Linked DNA regions of Homo sapiens. The protein of the gene in region 3 purifies or fractionates together with the protein of the main gene of each other region. This does not show direct contact. Each region holds a gene or a part of one and is shown on either strand. Other genes may lie near its edges.

Region 1 (2,314 bases), on a different chromosome or scaffold from region 3:
CTCTCCTCATGCATCCACCCCCTTCCTCCCCAGGAATAGCCAGGTCTGGCTGGGTCGGCACAACCTGTTTGAGCCTGAAGACACAGGCCAGAGGGTCCCTGTCAGCCACAGCTTCCCACACCCGCTCTACAATATGAGCCTTCTGAAGCATCAAAGCCTTAGACCAGATGAAGACTCCAGCCATGACCTCATGCTGCTCCGCCTGTCAGAGCCTGCCAAGATCACAGATGTTGTGAAGGTCCTGGGCCTGCCCACCCAGGAGCCAGCACTGGGGACCACCTGCTACGCCTCAGGCTGGGGCAGCATCGAACCAGAGGAGTGTACGCCTGGGCCAGATGGTGTAGCTGGGAGCCCAGATGCCTGGGTCTGAGGGAAGTGGGGCCAAAGAACCAGGTGGGGTCCGGCCACAGCCCAGTTTTTCTCTGACCCATAGTCTTGCGCCCCAGGAGTCTTCAGTGTGTGAGCCTCCATCTCCTGTCCAATGACATGTGTGCTAGAGCTTACTCTGAGAAGGTGACAGAGTTCATGTTGTGTGCTGGGCTCTGGACAGGTGGTAAAGACACTTGTGGGGTGAGTCATCCCTACTCCCAACATCTGGAGGGGAAAGGTGAGTGAAGACCCTAATTCTGGGCTGCAATCTGAAAGCTAACCAGACATCTGCCTCCCCTGCTCCCCAGCTATAGCCACGCCCCCTCCCCATGCCTCATCTGCCGCCCTCCTTCCCCCTTCCCTGACTCCCTCAACACAAGAGGTGATTCTCACAGCATAATTCACCCATTCCTGTGTTGAGCACATGCTTACTGGGCACCTGCTACGTGACCAGCATTGCCGTAGACCCTGGGAAGCAGCAGTGAACAGGTAGAGAGCAGCCTCTCCCTCCTGCAGCCCCCATGCTGGTGAGGGGCACTGGCAGGAACAGTGGACCCAACATGGAAATGCTGGAGGGTGTCAGGAAGTGATCGGGCTCTGGGGCAGGGAGGAGGGGTGGGGAGTGTCACTGGGAGGGGACATCCTGCAGAAGGTAGGAGTGAGCAAACACCCGCTGCAGGGGAGGGGAGAGCCCTGCGGCACCTGGGGGAGCAGAGGGAGCAGCACCTGCCCAGGCCTGGGAGGAGGGGCCGGGAGGGCGTGAGGAGGAGCGAGGGGGCTGCATGGCTGGAGTGAGGGATCAGGGGCAGGGCGCGAGATGGCCTCACACAGGGAAGAGAGGGCCCCTCCTGCAGGGCCTCACCTGGGCCACAGGAGGACACTGCTTTTCCTCTGAGGAGTCAGGAGCTGTGGATGGTGCTGGACAGAAGAAGGACAGGGCCTGGCTCAGGTGTCCAGAGGCTGTCGCTGGCTTCCCTTTGGGATCAGACTGCAGGGAGGGAGGGCGGCAGGGTTGTGGGGGGAGTGACGATGAGGATGACCTGGGGGTGGCTCCAGGCCTTGCCCCTGCCTGGGCCCTCACCCAGCCTCCCTCACAGTCTCCTGGCCCTCAGTCTCTCCCCTCCACTCCATCCTCCATCTGGCCTCAGTGGGTCATTCTGATCACTGAACTGACCATACCCAGCCCTGCCCACGGCCCTCCATGGCTCCCCAATGCCCTGGAGAGGGGACATCTAGTCAGAGAGTAGTCCTGAAGAGGTGGCCTCTGCGATGTGCCTGTGGGGGCAGCATCCTGCAGATGGTCCCGGCCCTCATCCTGCTGACCTGTCTGCAGGGACTGTCCTCCTGGACCTTGCCCCTTGTGCAGGAGCTGGACCCTGAAGTCCCCTCCCCATAGGCCAAGACTGGAGCCTTGTTCCCTCTGTTGGACTCCCTGCCCATATTCTTGTGGGAGTGGGTTCTGGAGACATTTCTGTCTGTTCCTGAGAGCTGGGAATTGCTCTCAGTCATCTGCCTGCGCGGTTCTGAGAGATGGAGTTGCCTAGGCAGTTATTGGGGCCAATCTTTCTCACTGTGTCTCTCCTCCTTTACCCTTAGGGTGATTCTGGGGGTCCACTTGTCTGTAATGGTGTGCTTCAAGGTATCACATCATGGGGCCCTGAGCCATGTGCCCTGCCTGAAAAGCCTGCTGTGTACACCAAGGTGGTGCATTACCGGAAGTGGATCAAGGACACCATCGCAGCCAACCCCTGAGTGCCCCTGTCCCACCCCTACCTCTAGTAAATTTAAGTCCACCTCACGTTCTGGCATCACTTGGCCTTTCTGGATGCTGGACACCTGAAGCTTGGAACTCACCTGGCCGAAGCTCGAGCCTCCTGAGTCCTACTGACCTGTGCTTTCTGGTGTGGAGTCCAGGGCTGCTAGGAAAAGGAATGGGCAGACACAG
Region 2 (4,234 bases), on a different chromosome or scaffold from region 3:
GTAGAAGGAAACATGCTTAAGCATTAATAATGATCTCCGGTGGTAGAATTTTTGGTAAGTTTAATTTTATCATTTACATGTTCCTACTTAACTATACATATATATTTATATATATTCATATACATAAATATACAAACATATGTATATATACACATTTTTGTTTATGGACAGCCTATGACTGTGAGCCAAGGGACATCAGAGACATGGCTCTCTGGAAACTGAGAGAATACTTAGTGGACAGTTTTTTGTTTGTTTGTTTGTTTGTTTTTGAGATGGAGTCTCGCTCTGTCACCCAGGCTGGAGTGCAGTGGCGCGATCTCAGCTCACTGCAAGCTCCACCTGGGTTGACGCCATTCTCCTGCCTCCGCCTCCCAAGTAGCTGGAACTACAGGAGCCCGCCACCACGCCCGGCTAATTTTTTGTATTTTTAGTAGAGATGGGGTTTCACCATGTTAACCAGGATGGTCTCGATCTCCTGACCTCGTGATCCACCCGTCTTGGCCTCCCAAAGTGCTAGGATTACAGGCATGAGCCACCGCGCCCGGCCTTAGTGAACAATTATTATCAGGATGATCAGCATCCATTTTTCCATCACCTGGCAACAACAACTAGCATTTCTCAAGGGAAATCCCCTCCTCATTCATAAGCACCATAGATGGAGTGGAACAGTCCCCACCTCAGCTTAAGGAGGGCTAAATAACCAAAGCATAAAGCAATCAGTCCACTACACTTCAGTGGACCCAATGATGACTCATTTTGGTTCAATAAATATCAAGTCCAGAACTTTTGTGCAGAACTGTGGAATAAAAAAAGTTATCTTTGTCACAGAATATTTATATTTAAAGAGGGGATTCTAAATATCCCAAAAATATGAATCTGAGATAGTGGTAAGATAGGAATGGGTTGCCATTTGCAGTATTTGTTGGGTGTGTGCAACTCTGCATACTGCTAAGGCAAGTCCAGCCTCCGTCTCACACCAACAGGCAGATTTCCCCACCACGGCCCTTACCATCTTGTGCTCTAACCCCAGATTTTCAGTCTACTCTTGCTAACCATCAATTCTTCAAGGGCAAGAGCCATGTCTCTCATATCCCTGGATCTGGCTTGCTAAATAATTATTCATGATTTTATCTGAGTAGAAAAAGAGCCAAGAACTGAGAAAAGGAGACATTCTTGGTTCTCAGTCACTGAGGAGCTTCTGCAGTACCAGCCTTTCTGCTAGCTGCAGCCACAGCTTCAACAGCTCCACCTCCTTGTTCTTTATTCTTGCTTTCACCTTGTTACTCAGCAGCAGGGGTGTAAATGTGACAGTGCCATGTCAACTTAAACCAAACCAGATAATTTTAATAAACCACCTTCTATAATGACACCCATCAAAACCAGAAGGGGACAAGTCTAGGAGGTCTCTGAGTTTACTGTACCCATCCCTCCTTCATCTCCCTCCAGCATTTGTTTCTGGAAGGAGTCAACACCAACAGCTCTGACCTGGGCAGCCTTCCTGAGAAAATGCAGCCATTCCTCCTCCTGTTGGCCTTTCTTCTGACCCCTGGGGCTGGGACAGGTAAGTGACTATCCCTATTCCAGAGGCCTGAACCCATCTTATAAGATACCCTGTACCCATGAGCACTGGTCAGGAATTTTCCTCAATCTGAGCCCACCTCCCATTCCACACCCAGACTTATAAATCTGAGGCTAGATAGACACTCAGCAAAGATCGAAAAATGAAGGGTGTTCCCTAAAAGGTTTAATGGGTGTTAGCCTCTCCCTAGACCTCTCCTTTATGACCTGGAGTGTGGATTGTTCTTAGAAAGGCATTTGGTAGGGAATGTGAAGCTAAAAAAGATAAGTAATTATTACTCTACACTCCAACCCAGGAAAGAGGAGCTCAGACACCAAGTTGCAGTCATAGGAGTTGTTACTGGACTCAGCTTAAGAACCACTTATTCAGTGCCCCCACCCAGTCACCCCTGCCAGGAGGGAAGCCCATGGTGCAACTGATCTCAGAGATGGCAAGATGACTGTGTCCATAGCTCTCCCATTACCTTGGCTCCACCTGGGCTTTGCGATTCATTTTTAGTTGATTTCTCCACTTCCTTCTGCCTTTGCAGGCCCTCAGCTACTCCACTGACCTGGTGATAACCCCCTCTAACATCCCTGAGGTCCTGAATCCCACCAGCACTACCCCCACTAAACCTCAGCCAAAGGCTAATTGGAGGCTATTCATTTATGCACCAAACAACACTTACTGAGAACCTAGAATGTGTTCAGCCCTGGCACATGAGAATTTTAGAAAATCCAACTCCAGAAGCTCATGGGTAGATCATTAGAAAATGGCACCAATCAGGAGGACAGCAGAGGCTCAGAGGAATCAGAGAGACTCACTAAAAAGGAGGAGCCTGGGAAGTCCTGTCCAGGATCCTCTGGGGCTCTACCACTGTGAAAATAGATCTTTCTTCCTCCATGTGTGTTTCTGCAGTAGGATGCAGAAGTCAAGCACTGTCCATTCTTTCTGAGAGAAGGTTCTGAGACTTAAAGTTCAGAAAAGCTTGCTCTGCCTGCAAGGAGTACTGCCTGCAGAGCTCAGGAGGACCCCTCCCTCACTGTCTGCAGCACACAAAACACTTCACCCTCAATCACTGTCGTCCTAAGCCTTCTCTCCTGACTGCAGCCATCCCCAGCTACTTTATCTTCCAGTCTTTCCTTTCAGAGGAGATCATCGGGGGCCATGAGGCCAAGCCCCACTCCCGCCCCTACATGGCCTTTGTTCAGTTTCTGCAAGAGAAGAGTCGGAAGAGGTGTGGCGGCATCCTAGTGAGAAAGGACTTTGTGCTGACAGCTGCTCACTGCCAGGGAAGGTAAGGAGCAGCACCAGCTCACCTCCTGAGTTCCCCCTACAGGGACCCTTGTTTTCTCCTGGGGACTGCAGCCCAGGGGAGCTTCCAGAGTTCCTGGTAACACAAGCCCATGAAAGCTCATCGGAGCAGCCACCTGGGAATAGGACTAAGATGATGAAAGGCTGAGAAATAGGACAGGGTCAGAGGGTCAGAGGGTCAGAGGTCAGAGCAAGTGGCATGGTTTCACACACTGGCCCAATAAGGCAGTAGTAAAGGTTGAATCCATGCATTAAGGATCAAAATGCAAACTCGAGCAATTTCATGATATTTCCTGAAGGCAAGAGAGAGCCCCCAGAAGCCCTACTCTTCATGTCTTTGTGAAGTAGAGGGCACAGTCACTCAGCCCTGGAGCCCTCCTGTCCCTTCAACTTCCCCTCAGCTGCAGCCCTACCCTGCCACAGCTGTCATCTGCTCTTCACTGCTCCTGGGCTCTATCCCCTGTGACTCCACCCCCATCCTCACTCTGCTCTCTGTGCAGCTCCATAAATGTCACCTTGGGGGCCCACAATATCAAGGAACAGGAGCGGACCCAGCAGTTTATCCCTGTGAAAAGACCCATCCCCCATCCAGCCTATAATCCTAAGAACTTCTCCAACGACATCATGCTACTGCAGGTGAGGCACACTCCTGCCACTCTTGCTCTTCTTGGTCCAGTTGGTTCCACTCCCACTGGGATGCCGGCCCTTTCCTCCTTTCCATCCTGACCTCTTGGTCAGTTCCTGTGCCTTAGAGGAGAGGGAAGATTGTGCAGCCCCATCACTGTGTCGGGGCCCAGAAGGCCATTGCCTGACCTGGACTTTCTTGCTTCTTCCCCACCAGCTGGAGAGAAAGGCCAAGTGGACCACAGCTGTGCGGCCTCTCAGGCTACCTAGCAGCAAGGCCCAGGTGAAGCCAGGGCAGCTGTGCAGTGTGGCTGGCTGGGGTTATGTCTCAATGAGCACTTTAGCAACCACACTGCAGGAAGTGTTGCTGACAGTGCAGAAGGACTGCCAGTGTGAACGTCTCTTCCATGGCAATTACAGCAGAGCCACTGAGATTTGTGTGGGGGATCCAAAGAAGACACAGACCGGTTTCAAGGTTGGGTTTCCAGCCTCTACCCAGAAAGACCACAGGGAGAGAGGAACTTGAGGGAGTTCTGGGGTATGACAGTGGCCAGATCTTTATGCTCTCAGCCCAGAGCTTGGGCAGCCTGTGTCCCCCTGGAATCTAGTCTTTAGTCCACTCCTTGGGTGGACTGGGGTGGCTGGAGGGGAAGGATCTGTCATCCGACAGTCACTTATCACCAAAGTGTCCGTGAGAATTGCAGAGAAAGGCTTGGTCTGGGGAGAGCCAGAAAGCAC
Region 3 (3,500 bases):
GCTTTATGAATGACATAACATATGGTACTACTAAGAACTTACTATGTAAGTATGTTGCATTACATAATTGGCCATGGGCAACTCTGAGTAAATAGATACCAGAGCTCCTCATCAGATACTTACAGATCTTGACTCTGTTTCATTCGGTGAAAGTCCTTCAGGATACCCATCATGTCTGCAAAGCTGCTGGCCTTGGACAAAGAGACGCAGTCATCCTCTTCAGACGAACTGCAGGCAGCTTTGTGTTCTGGTTTGCAACATTCAGGGCTGGCAGAACAAAGCAGGGGGACTGATGGAAGCTCAGGGACCTCCACCTCTGTCTCCTCGGTGATGTCACTAATGACAAAGGAAGTTGTAGAGTGGAATGAGGATCCAAAACAAGGTAAGGGAGAAGAGACATTTGAACTTCCTGGAGATAAGAAATCTGGCGTTAATGAAGCCGAAGCTGAAAGAGAAAACAATAGGCATGGGTGGACATTGGGGCTAGAACACAGTAGCAATATCTTCTCCCCACAGCCCTGCCTACTGAACATTCATTTCCTGGGCTGACACCATGACAATCTGGGAGAGCCAGGATGGTATCTGTAGCCAGTGGAGGGTCATTCCACTATGCTTCTCACTCGGGGGCTCAGAAAGCTGTAGAAGCACTGGGCTTTTCCAGTGTTCCAGGAAGGCAGGAAAACCCAGCCCCATAATGGCCTTGGCATTTAAAAGCTCCCATTCCACAATAGGCTGTGGAGTGACAGCCCTGTCATAGGCCAAAGCAGCAGAGATAAGAGCTAAGGCCTGAATTTGTCCTTTTCTCTAACTAGACTAGTGCTTTTGACTATGCTCCTTTGAAATCTTGCTATCTGTGAACTAGAAGACATGTTCTGAGCAAAACCAGAATGGTAACAGACCTCCCAACCTCCCCAAATTTCAGTGGAGAGAATTTCCTCAGTTTTTACATTTCTAAAAATACTTTAAAAACACTAAATACACTAAAAACTATGTTTCTAAAAAAGATGTTACTTCTGCTTGTCTCTTGGATGACAAAAAAGTAGCCAAGAAATAACAAAGTTTCAGTACAATTCTTCATAAAACTTCCATGTGAAGAAATTAAATACATGAAGATTTCAAAGAACACCATGATTTTCATGTGTCCTACCAAATGATAAATTTCAGAGCTATGACTCTGAGTCAATGCAGAGTGAAAAAATGAGGATGGGAGGAATATGAAGATAAGCCCTGAGCATCTTGGGAGCGATCCACCTGTTGGCTGTCCATGCCTCTGGTTAAGGCAGGCTTCCCATCCATTTCCAGTGGTTCTGCCTTAACTGTAGACAGAAAGCTGGAGGGGTGGGTTACAGGGCTTGTTTGCATAATAGACCACTGTTTTTTTTTTTTCTTTTTTTGAGACGGAGTCTCACTCTGTCGCCCATGCTGGAGTGCAGTGGTGCAACTTCAGCTCATTGCAACCTCCACCTCTGCCTCCACCTCCACCTTCCAGGTTCAAGGCACATGCTGCGATGCCCAGCTAATTTTTGTATTTTTTATAGAGACAGGGTTTCACCATGTTGGCCAGGCTGGTCTCGAACTCCTGACCTCAGGTGATCCACCCACCTCAGCCTTCCAAAGTGTTGGGATTACAGGCGTAAGCCACAGTGCCCGACCACTGTATTTTAAGGCCAAGATCTCCAACTTTATGAAATTCTCCTTCCACCAAAAAAGTCCACCAATTTGAGATAAGAAAACATAACATAATGTCATGAAACTCCCCACTTTGAAGGGTGGGGCATGGGGACAATGTCACTAGCAGTATAAGAACTGAAGTGGTAAAGCCACTTGTGATTCCTGGTAGAAACAACAAGGCAAGGGAAGATAGGTGCTTAAAAAGGGTAAGTCTCAGTGGTGGTGGGGGGAATGTTTACTTCTTGTATTGAAAAGGAAAGCAGGGCGCGGTGGCTCATGGTTGTAATCCTAGCATTTTGGGAGGCTGAGGCAAGTGGATTGCTTGAGCTCAGGAGTTTGAGACCAGCCTGGGCAATGGCGAAACCCTATCTCTACTAAAAATACAAAAAATTAGCTGGGCATGGTGGCATGCGCCTATAATCCCAGCTACTCGGGAGGCAGAGGCACGAGAACTGCTTGAACCCAGGAGGTGGAGGTTGCAGTGAGCCAAGATCGTGCCACCGCACTCCAACCTGGGTGACAGAATGAGACTCTTGTTTCAACCGCGGGCACAGTGGCTCATGCCTATAATCTTAGCACTTTGGAAGGCCGAGCTGGGTGGATTGCTTGAGGCCAGGAGTTTGAGACCAGCCTGATTAATGTGGCAAAACCCCGTCTCTACTAAAAATAAAAAAATTAGCCAGGTGTGGTGGTGCACACCCGTAATTCCAGCTACTCAGGAGGCTGAGGCACGAGAATCGCTTGAGCCTGGGAGGCAGAGGTTGCAGTGAGCCAAGATTGCGCCACTGCACTCCAGCCTGGGCAACAGAGCAAGAACCAGGACCCTGTCTCCAAAAAAAGGAAAACTGGCTGGGCTCGGTGGCTCACACCTATAATCCCAGCACTTTGAGAGGCTGAGGTGGGTGGGTCATCTGAGGTCAGGAATACAAGACCAGCCTGGCCAACATGGTGGAACTCTGTCTCTACTAAAAATATAAAAATTAGCCAGGCCTGGTGGCACACCCCTGTAGTCCCAGCTACTCAGGAGGCTGAGGCAGGAGAATCGCTTGCACCTGGGAGGCAGAGTGCAGTGAACTAAGATCGTGCCACTGCACTTCCAGCCTGGGCGACAGAGCAAGACTCACTCAGAGGAGAAAAAAAAAAAGCTACTGTGGGCTTATGTAAGATGTGATCTTAAAGACACTTAGAAGAGGGTATCAGTTTGGGGGCTAAGGGAGGGACTCTGCCTGGGGTCACAGGTTAATATTTTGTTCTTAACCAAACCATTCAGCCCAAAATGGCTGGTAGAAACCATCTAAGAGGCACTACTGGCTAGCCAGGCTTCAGGACAACCCCAGGGCCCGGAACCTAAGTACCTGCAAACCAAGGATTACCACTTTCTTTACCCCTATCCTGCCCAAGAGCCAGGGGAAAGGAACAGCCTGTTACGTTCTGGCCCTGGCACAGGGGCTCCTACCTGCATCAGCTGCCACTATCTTTGCAATCTGGCTGCGCAAGTGGCTCAGCTCGTCCTGCAGCTCAGTAGTGCGGCTTAGGGCTGGCAGAGCTGGCTTCTTCAGGGCCAGAAGCCTCTCCTCGGACCCACGCAGGTTGGGAACAGAGGCATTGCGCTGCATGACAATCAGAGGGCTGGGTTTCCAGGTGTGCCTCAGGGGGCGCGTATCACTCCTGGACCAGGGAAAACCAAGTAGATCAGTTAGAGACAGCAGGCCACTGTGCTCCTAAGGTTCCTTCCCCCACTTCTGTGAGAGTAGTATAGTAAGGTTCTGCTCCTCTCTGAGCCCACAGTTCTCATTCCTCTCTCCTTGCTGCCTGCCACCTCTTCTGGG
Region 4 (3,967 bases), on a different chromosome or scaffold from region 3:
GACTAATATCATTTCCTCTATCGTTCTAATTTAAAACTACGTTTCAAGTCACCTTTCCCTGAAAATGTTATGTACCCACTTAACATTTTCAGACTGAATAATCAGCATCTTTGCTGTTGTGGTTTTGCTTTTCAAAGGTAATAGTGGGATAGCTCTTCAAGCTGAAACTCCTGGGATAAAGGAATCCTGGGAGCCAGCATGTAGGATGTGTCCATCTTCATGCTCCGTCTTCACCTTGCACTGGCACTCCTCCACCAGCATCACCACCTTGATCACGGAGGAAAGTTCAGTGCAGTTCAGTGGCAAGTGCATCGTGGTGAACTTGGCAGGCAAACAGTGAGAGCAGGAGGTATGGGAGTGCTGCGCGGCTCCAGGAAAATGAACAGACCCGCATTTCCCAAAGCAAAGGTTGTTCTGAACAACTACTTTTTCACAGCCTTCGTGGGTTATAGTCTAAAAAGCAAACACATTTCCATTACGTTATTTTGAATTATTTCTTTAACACACATAATGCAGAAGCTATGGACTGTAAATCTGAGGATAATTTAAAAATTTCAAAGCTTTCCAATTTTGGATACAATTTGCAATATGCAAGTGATGGTATCTATAAGGGCACAGAACCACCTCAATTAAATTTTCTTTATTGAGTAAATTATTAAACAGCCTTTAGGGAATCCCTAAGTTAACATAAAAAATATTTTACTCTACATTATTCGTGCAAAACCTTAAGCAATTTTGTCTAATTGGATGTGAGCGATTGAAAAATTCTAATGGTAATTATCTTACATAAGTAATGTGCCTTACTTTTTTATTCCTCACAGGGCTTTGTGCATAGTAGGCTCCCAATACATATTTGTTACATTGATCGTAGAATAGATCAGAACATTCTAGGTTTAATTCTATCCTATTCTGCAAGACCTGTAGTACATTCAAGTCTATGAAGTTGTATGCAAGCAGAGTTACAATGCATATGCCTGCAAATCATTGTATATTACATCACCTTTACCTCTCATAACTCCAAGCACCTAGCTTTATATGCCTTTCAAAATATGTAAGAGTCAAACATCTTAGTTTTAATTTAATTAGCAATAGAATTCAAAAGAAGAATTTCAAAAGAAATTTGATTGCCTGATTCTTAGGGGTAATTTTCTAATTGCACATGGCCAACAGAGTAGTCATTATTATTTGATAATTGACTTGCCATTGCTACATATCCTTGCCTTTTCAGGCAGAATACTTAACTGCCTTGAACAGTCAATTGCCCTATTCTATTGCTTGCTTAATTGGGTAGCATTACTCGACTATAAAATTTTACTCTACCCTGCATGTTTTTGGTTCAATATCTTCATGTTTAAGGACCTAATGCAAGTTCTCAATTTTAATTTAACATTTGGAATGTAGATATTGCCAGAGGAAGTAGACAGTAGGATGTCCCTTTGTCTTAATAGCATGGAATTGATCATAATAACTACAAATCAGCCAACACAACATGAATCAGGAGAAAGGTACTTCTAAGGGGAGGAGATATGATCTCACATCAAGATTGATTTTTTAAAAAGCTCATATGAGAAAATAAGTGAAAGAAAATCACTTTTTTGCTATCATAATACTAGAAATGATATGACAACTTTTGCCTGAGAACCTCAACGTACTTTGAGGTTGTGGGATAGCTTTAGCAAGCTATTAAAGAAGTCCCTCATAAACCTATAAAGTAATTAAGTATGGACTATGGGGATTAAGACCATCGTAAATGGATATGAGAGTATTTGGGAAGGAGTCCAATGCACCCCACTTTATCAACAAATGGAGTTGACCTGCTCATCCACATATTAATAGAGTGCAGAAAGATAGCTACAGAGGAGTTCTGGTGATTACTCTAAATTCTCAGTTTCCTAACTGAGGGTACAGTCTGACTTATATCTCTGAGTAGATCACCTCCAATGCAAAAATAAATAAATAAAACAGAGCTCTGTGTCTTCAGTGTGAATGAATGATTACTGATATTGACAGTATCATCATATCATTCTTGCAGCATTTCCACAATGCCAAGAAAAAATGGAAAGGCCAGAAGGAAACTTAATCTTTGCCAAATCCTATGATGAATGCCCAAGGACCAAATCTGTAGTTAAGCTAGAGTCAGGCTCCTGACAGCCTTTTCCCCTACTCTCCATCCATCCCAGCTGTCCACTACCACCTGCAAACTCTTACCTGCTCTCCCCCCAGAACACATACCTGGCTGAAGGGCACTGTCCTGCAGGTCTCCCAATGTACTTCATGGCTTTTGATGGGCAAGATGACCCCCTGAGAAGCCGGAGTTTTTCTGAACATGAAGTGGTGCCAGAATTTCTTGGCTTCTTCCCGAAGAGGAGATTTCTCCATTTTCATTCCATCTATCGGCTGGATGAGGGACTGGGTCCCAGGTGGGAAGGGCTCACTATCTGAGTCCCTGGATGGATGCATTTCTCTCTCAGGCTTCTTCCAGAACCTGCCAAATCTGGACAGCATCTTCTCTCTCTGCCTCTGGCCTTCCCCTGCAGGGCTGGTGGCTACAAGGTGTGGCACTGCGACAAACAGATCTGGCTTCTCCTCAGCTTCCTCATGGTTGCCTGTGGGAAGCTCTCTTTGATTCCTTGGCAGGAGTACGGGGGAAAGAGAACTCTGATTCTGGCGGCCATCCTGGTGCCGTGTGGTCTTTCCTAGAGGCAGGAGTACCAGCAGCTGAAATAAGAGGAGATGCATGCTGTCAGGGGCCCAAGCTTCTTTTGTAAATGATGAGGCCCAAAGGAGAGGCTCATTCTCTGCAGGACTGGGAAAAAGGAAATCGTATATATAGATACCTGCCTGGCGGGATGGGAAGGCAGGTGGTCAGTAGCCAGGCAGAATAAACACATTTATTGTTTGCTTGAATTATGTAGTGCTAATGGCCTCCTGCCGTCACTTTGGTTTTGTGTATTTTAAAAGGCCCCAGTGAAAGCCTGGGACCCAGGGGGTAATTAGCTAAGAGTTTAGCTATGTCTGGGGCTTAAAGAGCAGTATTAGCAAAGACAACACATTCTTTGCCTAAATTTCCCATGGCTGTTTTCAGAAGAAGGACTAGAGTCAGCTCACATTTGCTGTGCATCTGCCTTGTGCTGGAATAGAATAGACAAGACATGTTGCTGTAAGAGAAGTTTTTGGATAAAAATTAAAGGCATACATTTAGAAAAAGCCCAGGCCTTTAGGAAGGCTATTCACACACACACACACACACACACACACACACACACACACACACACACGAAGAAGTATATCAAAGTTGTAAGGAGAAGAAAGGAAGAGCTAGAAGGATGTTAATTTTTTTGAGCAAGGGACATATTGTTTCTTACTTACATGCAAATTGGGGTTATTGATTTTTGCACAGTAACTGAGTAAAGGGAATATGTTTTCCTTTCCACACGTAGAAACTCACAATTCCCAAGTTAATCCTCTCACATTAAGAATCAATTAATGGGTGCTAAATTTCACAACTGGTCAGTCATCAGATAAACTCTTCCAATTGTTCACATGTTCCTCAACAGGATACCACGTAATAGACTGACAGCTCATCAGTCTTCAATGAGGATAGGGAAATGTCTCCCTCCAGCCATCCTATTGATTTTTTTTTCCCTTTGAACAAAGAGCCAGACATGAGAACGTGGATTCTAAGAACCAGGTTTGATAACTTTGTGTGTGACGCTGGCTAGTCAGTTTCTTACCTTATTGAATCCACATCATCTCCCCTTGTTTTACACTAATTGATGGCCAGGCTAAATAAAGATTGACACAAATAAGAGTCTTCGGGGATCAAAGGAAAAATTGAAAAATAACTATCATTCAAAACTATCATGAATCAGCCTAGGATACGAAAAAGAAACACGTCCAGAAAACTGAAACCCCAGAATAGAGTCCGATCAGCCTACCACATGATTCAAACAGTATTTCCACTGGG

What was found. Proteins that work in one complex are often made in the same cells at the same time.
Region 1: the proteins of MTFR1L (region 3) and KLK2 purify together in Homo sapiens (co-immunoprecipitation; one large-scale study listed by IntAct). This does not show direct contact.
Region 2: the proteins of MTFR1L (region 3) and GZMH purify together in Homo sapiens (co-immunoprecipitation; one large-scale study listed by IntAct). This does not show direct contact.
Region 4: the proteins of MTFR1L (region 3) and CER1 purify together in Homo sapiens (co-immunoprecipitation; one large-scale study listed by IntAct). This does not show direct contact.

What each region holds. Positions count from the first base shown.
Region 1 is NC_000019.10:50,876,439-50,878,752, forward strand, and holds part of KLK2 (kallikrein-2 isoform 1 preproprotein), read left to right. Parts: intron 1-33; coding exon 34-320; intron 321-433; coding exon 434-570; coding exon of another isoform or gene 571-607; intron 608-1,965; coding exon 1,966-2,121; 3' UTR 2,122-2,314. UniProt on the Homo sapiens protein: Glandular kallikreins cleave Met-Lys and Arg-Ser bonds in kininogen to release Lys-bradykinin.
Region 2 is NC_000014.9:24,606,886-24,611,119, reverse strand, and holds the start of GZMH (granzyme H isoform 1 preproprotein), read left to right. Parts: upstream 1-1,434; 5' UTR 1,435-1,506; coding exon 1,507-1,561; intron 1,562-2,707; coding exon 2,708-2,855; intron 2,856-3,372; coding exon 3,373-3,508; intron 3,509-3,713; coding exon 3,714-3,971; intron 3,972-4,234. UniProt on the Homo sapiens protein: Cytotoxic chymotrypsin-like serine protease with preference for bulky and aromatic residues at the P1 position and acidic residues at the P3' and P4' sites. Probably necessary for target cell lysis in cell-mediated immune responses.
Region 3 is NC_000001.11:25,826,454-25,829,953, reverse strand, and holds part of MTFR1L (mitochondrial fission regulator 1-like), read right to left. Parts: intron 3,340-3,500; coding exon 3,128-3,339; intron 446-3,127; coding exon 124-445; intron 1-123. UniProt on the Homo sapiens protein: Mitochondrial protein required for adaptation of miochondrial dynamics to metabolic changes. Regulates mitochondrial morphology at steady state and mediates AMPK-dependent stress-induced mitochondrial fragmentation via the control of OPA1 levels.
Region 4 is NC_000009.12:14,719,934-14,723,900, forward strand, and holds the start of CER1 (cerberus precursor), read right to left. Parts: upstream 2,801-3,967; 5' UTR 2,740-2,800; coding exon 2,233-2,739; intron 454-2,232; coding exon 157-453; 3' UTR 1-156. UniProt on the Homo sapiens protein: Cytokine that may play a role in anterior neural induction and somite formation during embryogenesis in part through a BMP-inhibitory mechanism. Can regulate Nodal signaling during gastrulation as well as the formation and patterning of the primitive streak.